Linked DNA regions of Homo sapiens: region 2 is linked to region 1. The links come from fine-mapping of genetic effects on gene expression. A gene starts in region 1. The other region holds a variant in brackets. All regions are shown on one strand. Distances are from middle to middle.

What was found.
Region 2: its variant is fine-mapped to the expression of SH2D4B in lung (TOPMed, PIP 0.91).

What each region holds. Positions count from the first base shown.
Region 1 is chr10:80,535,815-80,541,074 of GRCh38, forward strand. SH2D4B (SH2 domain containing 4B) reads left to right here and starts at 2,088. Exons shown (of 8, transcript NM_001388272.1): 1 at 2,088-2,701. The coding sequence starts at 2,518. TSPAN14-AS1 (TSPAN14 antisense RNA 1) reads right to left here and starts at 128. Exons shown (of 2, transcript NR_120661.1): 1 at 1-128. RefSeq lists a silencer at 126-315 and enhancers at 386-485, 3,792-3,931, 4,969-5,148.
Region 2 is chr10:80,622,072-80,627,560 of GRCh38, forward strand. The region is part of intron 6 of SH2D4B (SH2 domain containing 4B); the gene reads left to right. Among named protein-coding and RNA genes, the nearest start is that of LINC02655, 25 kb to the right of the region's middle. The variant T/C (reference allele first, on the strand shown) is at 2,405.

The DNA of each region.
Region 1 (5,260 bases):
GTGAAAAATGAAAGCAAAATAAGACCAGTTGAAAGGCGGCAGAAAACCTGTGTGACTACTCCGTGGCTCCCCTGCCTGGTTTCCAGCCGCGGACTCTGCTCTTCGGCGCGACCCCTGCTCCTGGGGTCCTCTGGGGTCCTCTGGGGTCCTCCCGCACACCCAGGCCAGGCACACCCAGGTTGCGAAGCCGAGTGCCTCCCCGTGCGGCCGCCAGGGAGCGCCCCAGGCCTGGCCGAGTCCCCCGCCCTCCACCCCGCCAGGCCCAGGAGAATTGATAGGCGGGCCCCGAAGCACGTCTTCCCGGAAACCGGACTTCACCCGCTCCCGGGCTGCCATCCGCGGCTGGGTGACGCTCACGTCCCCGCGATTCGGTGTCTCTTGGCCTCCTGCCCCGCTGACCTGGGAGTGCCAGGGATCACCCCGCCCCCAGCGAGATCCCCTCTATCGCACAAAATGGGCGCTAGCGGGGGTCATTCTAGTCCGGCTGCCTCACTCTCCCGACGGTCCTCCAGGGTGGCACCATCACCGTTCTCGCCCGCCTCCAGCCGGCCCATTCCTGCTGCTCCCTACAGCGTTGTCCCTGCCCCGTGCCCTCTTGTGGTCGTAGGTATCTGGCGGCCCGGGAAAGACAAAAAGAAGCTGCCCGCAGGAGCCCAGACCCTGGGGGCCTTCCTCCCCTTGTCTCCTCTTTGGACTCGGGGGTCTCCCACCAGCCACGGCGAGGGGGAGAAAGAGAATAGCTGGGCAGAGGCTAGGGAAGACCCCCGGTCTCAGAAACTGAGGGGAGCCAGGACTCCCGGTGGGGGAGTCGGTGCAAGCCCTGAGGTGGGTGGATGGGAGTCCAGGGCCACAGCTCTGCAGCGGACAGGCGAGTCCTGTGGCGGCTCTAGGAAGGTCTGGGCACACTGGGACCAGCTAGCTGGACCTGGGTGGGGAGGGGTGGGGCGTCTGACTCCACTCCTGTGACCTGGACATTGCCTAGCTGAGCAGGAGCTTTGACCCTATGGGCTTACAGCTCATCTGAATCTGCTTAGTCCATCTTCCTGTTGTGTTAACCTTGCAGAGGGGGAAGAATGCCAACTCTCCACCCCTCTTCCATCACTCTTGGGTACCTGATCCACCTTCCACCCTCATGGGCAAGGAAGGGGACAGGAAGGTCACCAATCCAACCAAGCCACAGTGCCAAATCCTGTTGGTTCGTTTGTTTTCCCTTGGTTGGGTTATGTTTTCAAACCATCAACAGATTCATAGTTGCTAGTGGATGTCAAATTTCAAAACGGGGGAGTCCCAATACAGTGACTTGTCCATTAGGAAGCCATAGGCAAGCCACTTACTTTCTCTGAGCTTCAATATCCTTGTCCCAATAAGAAGGCATCTGTGATTTGCTCTGAGCACATATTTAGGGTGAGCTTTCACCCTAAAGATCTCAGCAACGGCAGCTTCTACCCACCTTCACACACCAAAGAGAGGGTGGCTTCCCTCCCAGCAGAAGGCAACATCCCGCCATTCCAGTGTGCTTCTGATCAGGGCACAGAGAAGAGCCAGTTTCATCTTCTTTCTTTTTGGTCAACTCCAGGCATCTGCAACAAACAAGATTAACAACGACCATTAAAACTGGCCCCTGGAGGGTTTATCTGTCAGCCACGCATGGCTGCAGGATCTCATTATATATAGGCCAAAGGGAAAGGATGTCTGCTTCCTTTCTGTCCTGGAATTCCAAGATAAAATCCCCTCCAGTTGTCTCTACTGATTCCATTTTGTTTTCTTTCTTGGCTGTAACACAGATAGGAGGAAAAATCTTTCCTCCCCCAAGGCAGAGTTTTAAACGCATCATCTCAGAATGCCAAATGTTCTGGAAAGGAAGAAAGTTGGCAGCGAAGGAACCCGCAGAGAGAGGGGCTGAGAGGGCTGAGGGGCCCAGCAGCTTCTGGCAGGCTCCTCTGGTCTGTGTTTGAAATTGGCTGAAAAGACATGGAATTTAGTAGGCAAGTCTGCCTCCTTCTCCTCCTCTTATCTGCAGAGGAGAGATCAGTTCCCAGCTGGCCGGGGCAGTGTCATTGATATAGCTGGTGTCATTGTTACCTTCCACTAACAGATCACTCGACACCTACCAGCCCAGGCAGGGCTGGGACTGGGCATTTCCTGGCTGAGCTGGAGGCTTGGGCCCTTCCCATTGTCTCAGAACCCCAGGTGATGCCAAGACATGGGCTCTCCTGGGATGCCGTGCTTGGTGACCCAGGAGAAGGACTAGATTGCTCCTGGTGGTTGCTCCCCCTTGCAGAGTCCCACCTGCCCCTTTGGGTCCTGTTGCCTGGCCTCTTTTGCTGTCCTGGGTAGAGGAGATGAGTTCGTCGCTGGCTGCAAGCTGAGGCCAACTGACAATGCTGCACAGAGAAGGGGCACCGAGAGTGGCCCCGGATTGAGCAGTCCGTAGTGCAGAGCAGCCCCTCGGGCGTTCTGCCTGGCCCTGCTTCCCCTGCTGGCTGCCCTTCTGGTGCGTGCATCCCAGGTGGCATCATGCTGCAGCAGATCCTGCACGACATGTACATCGACCCCGAGCTCCTTGCCGAGCTCAGCGATGTGCAGAAGCACATCCTCTTCTACAAAATGCGGGAGGAGCAGCTGAGGCGCTGGAAGGAGCGGGAGACTTGGGAGGCCCTGGCCCAGGACGAGGGTCTCAGGCCTCCAAAGACCAAGCGAGGTACGTGGCTGGGAGTCACAGAGAGGTAGGCCACCAGTCCCCCAGGAGGTAGAAAAATTAGCAGGGCCAGGCTGTGCCCTTCTTCAAGATGGGCACTGGGGTGATGAGGGCTGGGGGCTTGAAACCCTTGTCTTGTGGGCATCAGGTCCCATGAGCCTGTGCTTTTGCCTTTTGGCCAGGACCTTAGGGCTTCGAGGCTGCTGCAGAGGCTGTCCAGCGGCCCTTATTGGAGTCGGGGAGTTGGGACTTGCTTTGTCTTGTTGTGGAAGGCCCGAGTTCTGGGAAGACACCATTGAGACTTCAGATTGTGCTCCGACGTGGTTGGCAATGGTAGGGTGAACGACGGCATATTTGTGACCCTTGCCATTGGTTCTGGGCCAGAGTGTGGTGTAGATATGCAGTTCCTTTCTCCTTGGCATGCGTGGCACACCAGTTCTTGGCTAGGGCCCCTTCTGTGGACTGTGCCTCTCCCTCCAGATCCTCCGGCAGGAGGATGCTGTGGGTTGTCTCTGGAGCCCCACTGGGCATCCGGAGAGAGGGCATCAGGGAACGTCCCACACAATGAATGACCATCCCCAAATGGTCGTAGCAACTGCAGATGAGAAGCAAGGGCCTAGCCTACATTTCAGGTGTTTTGTATGCAAAGTCATGTGCCAGTCAATCCTATGGACTGGTACACCTGTGGGTGAAGGAAATCATCCAGGACCCCTGGGCCAGAAACTGGCAGGCTGCTGAGGCTTGGCTTGGCACAGGACTCAATCCTGCCAGGGATTGTAGTTTCTGTGGATGCTGCATGCACTTTACAGTTTGCAAGGCTTATGTGCCTTCACCCTTTGAAGTTTTCAATCCAGAACAAAGTCCTGTTTCAGGGCTGAGCACACAGCTCCCTTGGTGATCTGGCTCTTCTCCATGCCAGGCTCACTGCTGGCCAGTCCCCACCAGGTGCCACAGGCCACACCCACATCATCTGGACATGCTTGCTCTTGTCTCTGGTCTTCACATGAGTGGCTCTCACCGTTGGGAATGTCCTTCTGCCTTCATCCACCTGACAGACTCCATCAGGAGTGGCCCCCCTGCCCTGGAGTGTTCAGGGATGCTCTTGCATAGGGCAGTACTTGCTCCTCTGTGGCTGCCTGGCATGTAGGACCCACGCCTGCCCTGGCATTTGCCACCCTGTCATTGTCATTCCTCATCTGCTTGCCTGGCTCTCCGATGGGCTCAAAGGCACTGGTGTGTGAGGGCTTCCTCCACTCTATCTTCCTCCCCTGGGCCCAGCACAGAGGTGGCACATGGTGTTAAATCCTTGTTTTGAACAAGACACAGCAGGACCCTGCCGGGGAGGTTGGGGCAGAGCTGTGACTTGGCTGCAGGTGGCTGCTGCCAAAGCTGGGGCCTTCCGGGCTGGGCTGCGCTGGCAGCTGCATCACTAACTGGTGAAATGACAAGCCACCTTGCCAGCACCACCCGGCCTGAGCCCTGGGGACTCATGATGCCTGCATGATGACTCTTCTTGGAGGGAGACAGATGCCTAAAAATTTAACTGCAAAAATATTTATACAGAGATTTGTCACACATAGACATCTACATTTTCATGTATAAATTATACATTAAACTCATTTGAGTTTCTGGTGCAGAAGATCCTTTTTCTGGTAATTAATTTTCTGATTTATAAAGAATGGAAAAGCAGGAAAGCACGCCGAGGAATGTGTGTATCCCAGGTCAGGATCCCGCTTGGATCCTGGCTCTTTGCTTCGGTCCTGCCTTTTGGAACTGTCTGGGCATGCCACTGGGGAGCCTGGGGGCTGGCCCTGCCCAGGAGCCGGAAGAGCTTTCGGCCGGAGGGTCCAGGATATACAGTATCTGCTTCATGTCCTGGGGTCGTGATGAAGGGTGGCAACAACTTGTGAGCTTTACGTTGACTGGGTGCCTACCCAGCCCTTGCTGCTCCCGTGTCCCTGCGGGGTGGCAGGGCAAGCTCCCTGATTTCATTGCAGATAAGGAAGGTGAGGCTCAGAGAAGTGATGCGCTACATCCAAGGTCATCCAGCTGCTACATCTCATGACTTGGATCTGGGGTCTGGTGACTGATTTTTTTTCTGTTCATTCACTTCCAAACTCGGAACTCCAATTAAACAAGTGAGCTGTGCACACATTCACTTGTTCACTCATTCACCAATTCATTCACTTATCCAGCATTACTATGTGCTGATTTCAGTGAATGGGGCAGTGCTTGTCCTGGAGACGGTGGGTAGATGGATCATAGGGAACACAGCCAACTCGAGTGCCAAGGGTGAGGCTTGGTTCAAAGCAGCCGTGCCGTGTCCCAGGGCGGGAATTGTGCGGGGACGGGCTCCACGGAGGAATCTTCTCTTCCTTCCCTTGATGTTGCCAGAGGACTCAGGAGGCTCTCCAGATGCTGGTGAGACCCCAGCCCCAGTTGATGTCCAGGCTCTTGAAACTGTCTTGAGAAAGAACTCGGGAATGAGTCAGAATGATAGGAAAGGCAAGAAACTGTTAGTGAGAAGCGAAAGTACACACTTGAGAGAGAAGTGCGGGCGTG
Region 2 (5,489 bases), 86 kb after region 1:
TATTTCTACCTTTTAAGAAGTCCTAAGTGCTGAGAGTTGAGTTCATCAGCCATCCCTCCCCTGCCCACCCCCATGGCTTATTATCATCAGAAGACACAGGCTATTTCTTATTAATTTACTTATTCTCCTTCATTTTCATTCCCTTTCCTCTCCAATAAGCAGCCATTCTGATAGGCTTCACATGTATCTGTTGAAAGGGTTCTTATGTATACATTGTGTATATATCACCTTATAGGGAAGTTGTTCTGCTCCTTACTTTTTCACATGATGATGTTATATGTGATTTGACCTCGATGATTTTCTGTGGCTAAGTTTTACATGAAATTAGTTTTCCTGAATTTTTGCAGTTAAACGAGGGCCAGGAAAGTATTTCTAACTCCACGGAGCTGCTGCTTGTGTAGTTTTTGTGTAGTGTTCCCAAACAGGGCAGCTTGCTTTCTGAAGTCTCCAGGCTCTGTCCCTTCCCCATGGGTCTATACTTTCTCTTTCTTTCCTCTATTTGCCTGTATTTTGCTCAATTTTGATTTCACTCACAGTGGTGGCAGGTGGCCCTGGAGGGTCTCATGGTGGGCTCCTTGCACTCACCCAGGGTTGGGGAGGGCAGAACTCTCCCTATTTTCAGCTGCCACTCTCAGTTGGTCTCCTGCTTTCCAGTGAATTCTGTTGACTGCTCTTGGATCCATTAGCCACCCTTGTTGTTTATTTCTTCTTTCTCCTGTATAGACATTGGTATCATGAAGGTCTTGTGTTAGTGGTTTATTCCTACCACCATTTGTATTTGGGGTTTTCTCGGCCCATTTGAGCTGTTATAGCAGAATACCTGAGACTGGATAATTTTGTTTGTTTTGTTTATTTATTTATTGAGATGGAGTCTCACTCTGTCACCCAGGTTGGAGTGCAGTGGCGTGATCTCAGCTCACTGCAACCTCCTCTCCCGGGTTCAAGCGATTCTCCTGCTTCAGCCTCCCGAGTAGCTGGGATTACAGGCGTGTGCCACCACACCTGGCTAATTTTTGTATTTTTAGTAGAGACGGCGTTTTGCCATGTTGGCCAGGATTGTCTCGAACTCCTGACTTCCGGCAATCCGCCTGCCTCGGCCTCCCAGAGTGCTGGGATTACAGGCGTGAGCCGCCGTGCCTGGCCGAAACTGGATAATTGATAAAGAACAGAAATTTATTGCCTTACAGTTCTGGAGGCTGGGAAGTCGAAGATCAAGGCATAGGCAGGTTTGGTGTCTGTGAGGGCTCAGTCCTCGCTTTGAAGATGGCACCTTGAATGCTGTGTTCCCTCACAGCATAAAGGTAGAAGAGAATGAACCTGCTGCTTCATAAGGAGCCTAATTCCATCCATGAGCCCTCCATCCTCACTACTTAATTATCTCCTAAAGACCCCTTCTGTTAATACCATTATGTTGGTGACTAAATGTCAACATATGAATTTTTATGGGCACAGACCATAGCAAGGCTCGTGGGGATATCTCATGACCTAATTTGTTATAAACCTAGTCTATGGACTTCTGGTTTTGTTCTTTAGTTGCACTGCCTGTTCTTATTTGGAGATTTGGAGAGATTTTAAAATGATGTTGCTGCCCCTGTAGCCATCTTCCCAGAATCTACTCCCCTTACCCCATACTTACCTATATTTACATGAATCGTGAGGTGCTTTAAATATCATTTGTGTTTACTTAGCTCACTGAGCATCATGCCATTAGATGCATGCTGTGTGTGGCTCTGTTGTATTATTTCCAACTGCTGTACAGTACTCCACTGGGTGTATCCGCCTAATTTCACTGATCTACTCCCCAAGTCATGGAAACCCAGATTGTCTACAATTAATCATTTAGTTCCTTGCATTGGATCCTTATGGACCTGTGCAGTGTCTTTCAGCAGTGGAGTTGTTGGGCTAGAGGGTGCATGTGTACTTTATTTAACGACGGGGGCTGATGGCTCTCGGAAGGCTGATCTAGTTTCCACTCCCCCAGCCGTATATTAGGGTTGCTCTACCTGTGCGCTCCAAATCCCACTCTAGAATGTGGCAGAACTCCTGGATCCCCTCCATTCCTCACTGGAACTTGGTGAGGCTGGGAATCACCATCTTTAGACTTCTCTCTCTACACATACCATTTCTGCTTAGCTGTGGCTACATTATGCAGGTGCAGGGTAATTGCTAGACTCTCCAACAGAAACTAGGGTATAGGACATTCTGCTTTCAGCTACCTTCTCAGACCTTCTGGGGTGTGGGTTGCAGAAGAGGGATTAAGGACAGCTCCTCCAGTTCTTCTCTGCCTCTTCCCAGCTCTAGCCTAGAAAACGCTCTTTCCTTCTCTTTCCTGTCTGGCAGGGACCTTCATAGGACCTATCCTATAATCCCCTCTAGAATAGGTTTATAAAACTCTATGTTCAGA[T/C]CTCTAAGTATTGCTCTGAATATAGAGGGAGTTTCTAGAATGTGAGAGTCACTTTTTATATCTCTGCCATTCCTGGCTTGCAAGACTACTGACTTTCTAGCCCAGAGTCTCAAACCTGGCTACATGTTAGAATCAACTGAGAATGTTTTCAACCATACCACTGCTTGATGTAACCCAGATGAATTAACCAAACTCGCTCTAAGTGGGACCTGGGCATCAGCCAAGGCTGAGAACCATACTTCAGGGACACAGACAACCAGCATGGAAATCGAAAACTGATTAGTGACTCTGTTGTTCTAGGTGGTAACCTGCACTGCCTCCAAAGGACATTGATCAATTTTGAATGAATGCCATAGCAGTAATGTGTGAGAAGCTGCAGAACAACAATATTAAAATATTTTTAATATTAAATATTGAATACTTACCATATATGTATATACATATGTGAAGGGCATAAAGAAAGCTTAAGTGGGAGCAGCACCAAATCCTAAAGCCCTCACCTGTGTGCTTCTCTCCATTGTAACCTCTTTTTAACAGATATGATCCCTATGCTGAATATTTTGTCCATTATTTCTTTGCTTCATTTATTGCTATATATTAATCTCCAAATGTTTAGCATTGTGAGCTTTTCAACCTAATATAAATGTCACAGTGTATTTATTTTTCAGTTATTTGCTTTTCTCATGCTTCATTGAGAACGTTTTTTTTTCTCATTCCATTTTTCCACCTCTGTTATTTGGAGATTTTACCACTCTCAATGTCTATCTTCCAGTGGTTAATTTAGACGATTTAATATGTACACTTAGCAGATTCTAAAGTTAATGCGGCTGTCCCTTGGTTTCTTTGGGGGATTGGTTCCAGGAACCCCTGTGGATACCAAGATATGCAGATGCTTAAGTTCTTTATGTAAAATGGCATAACATTTGCATAAAACATATGCATATCCTTCTACACTTTAAATTATTTCTAGATGACTTATAATACCTAATATGATGTAAATGCTATGTAAATAGTTGTAATGTATTCTTTTTATTTGTATTTTTAAAATTGTTTTCTTGTTTTTTATTCATTTTTGGTTTTGAATTTTTTTTCTTTTTCTTTTTTTTTCTTTTTTTGAGACAGAGTCTTACTCTGTCGCCCAGGCTGGGGTGCAGTGGTGTGATCTTGGCTCACTGCAATCTCTACCTCCCGGGTTCAAGCGATTCTCCTGCCTTAGCCTCCTGAGTAGCTGGGACAACAGGCCTGCACACCATGCCTGGCTAATTTTTGTATTTTTTTTGTAAAGACAGGGTTTCACCATGTTGGCCAGGCTGGTCTCAATCTCCTGACCTCAAGTGATCTGCCCACCTCAGCCTCCCAAAGTGCTGGAATTACATGTGTGAGCCACCATGCCTGGCCTGTTTTTGAATATTTTTGATCTGTACTTGGTTGAATCTGCAGATGCAGAGCCCACAGACAGGGAAGGCTGACTCTATATATCTTTACTCTCACCCTAAACAAAATTTTGAAACTCCTACTCCCTACTGCTAAGATATTGTCTAGTATTATAGTTCCATCTTTTTCAAAACCTCAAATTATCCATTTTTATTATTGTCTTGTAAGTCAACTTTTTTAGGTTGACCTGCAGTATCTGTGCTCATCATTTGTTCCGGTATCTCTGATTTTCTATCCAGGATAATTTTTTTTTTTCTTCCTGAAGTACATCCTTTAGAATTTCCTTTAGAAATCAACCAGCTCAAATTATTTTCTGAAGATTTTTTATTTTATTCTTTTCCTTGAAAGGTAGTTTCGTTAAACACAGTTATTTTTCTCTCAGCATACTTGAAACTTTTATTCCATTGTTCTCTGGCTTTTATGGTTGCAACTGAGAAGTCTGCTGTAAGGCTAATTATTTATTCTTTGTAGTGATTTGCATTTTCTGTCTGGTTGACAAAAGAAGAATGGAATATCTTTGCATAGTTTTATAGTATGTGTCTGTGATAATTGTTAACTATTCACTCTTAAAATATTGCCTCCTCTCCTCTCCTGTGGGACTCGGATTCTATATATGTTAGACTTCCCATTCCATCTGCCATGTGTCTTAACCTCCTGAGATTTAGATTAAGCTTCTCTCATGTTAGATTTATATAAATGCCCCATGGGTGTGTCATGCCTGGTCTTCATTCTGACTTTTCACTCATCTTGTCCCTTCTCTCCCTCACACCTCATTACTACCCCTCACTGCTTACACAGAATCTATCTGGCCTTCAAGGCCCACCTCACATTCCCATTCAGTGCCTCCACAGAGCCTTCCCTGATTTCTCAACCTCTTCCTTCTTGTTTATTTCACAGCATTTACCATCCTTTGCATGAGACAACATGGTATAGAACAGAGAGAGCACTGGACTTGGAGTCCGAGGACCTGAGTTCAGATCTGCCTCCACCACTTAATAGATTCTCTGTGACTATTAAGCCCTGTGACTTTGGGTGAATCCCTTCTTTTCCTGACATTCAGTGTCCTCAGTTGTGAACTGGTTATAACAGGGTTGATAGGAAGACCAAAGGAGAAGGGTCACAGAGGCCCCAGATCGTGCCTAATGCTGGCTGTGACATAAGCGTCTCACAGGAGCCTGAGTGTGTCGTTTAACCTCTGTGCGTCAAAATGGAAGCCATTTCTGGGAGGGTAGGGGTCAGAGAGCCAGATATCAATGGTACACTGTGAAATGTAGCCATGAAGCAATTCTTAAGTGAGGAAGCCCTCACTGAGCTGAAATCCTTGGCTCTGAACCGTAATCCTTCAATCCATTTTCCACACTTGAACATTCTTATATCTTTCTTCTGTATAGGAAACATCAGTGGCTGTCCGCTGCCCTCAGAATTAATCCTTTCAGTGGTATGGAGAGCCCTTTGGAGCTTGACTGCTGCCTATCGTACACCTCTGGCCATTGCCCAGCTCCCAGCTTAGCCCTCCCTCCAGCCACAAAGAGCCACTTGCTAATGACTTTTGCAATCTTCCCTCCTTGCCTTGCCCCCTCTTGTCCCTTTCTGGACTCAGTCTAAACATCACTTCCGCCGCTGGGCTCCAGAACTGGGTGGGGTGCCTCCC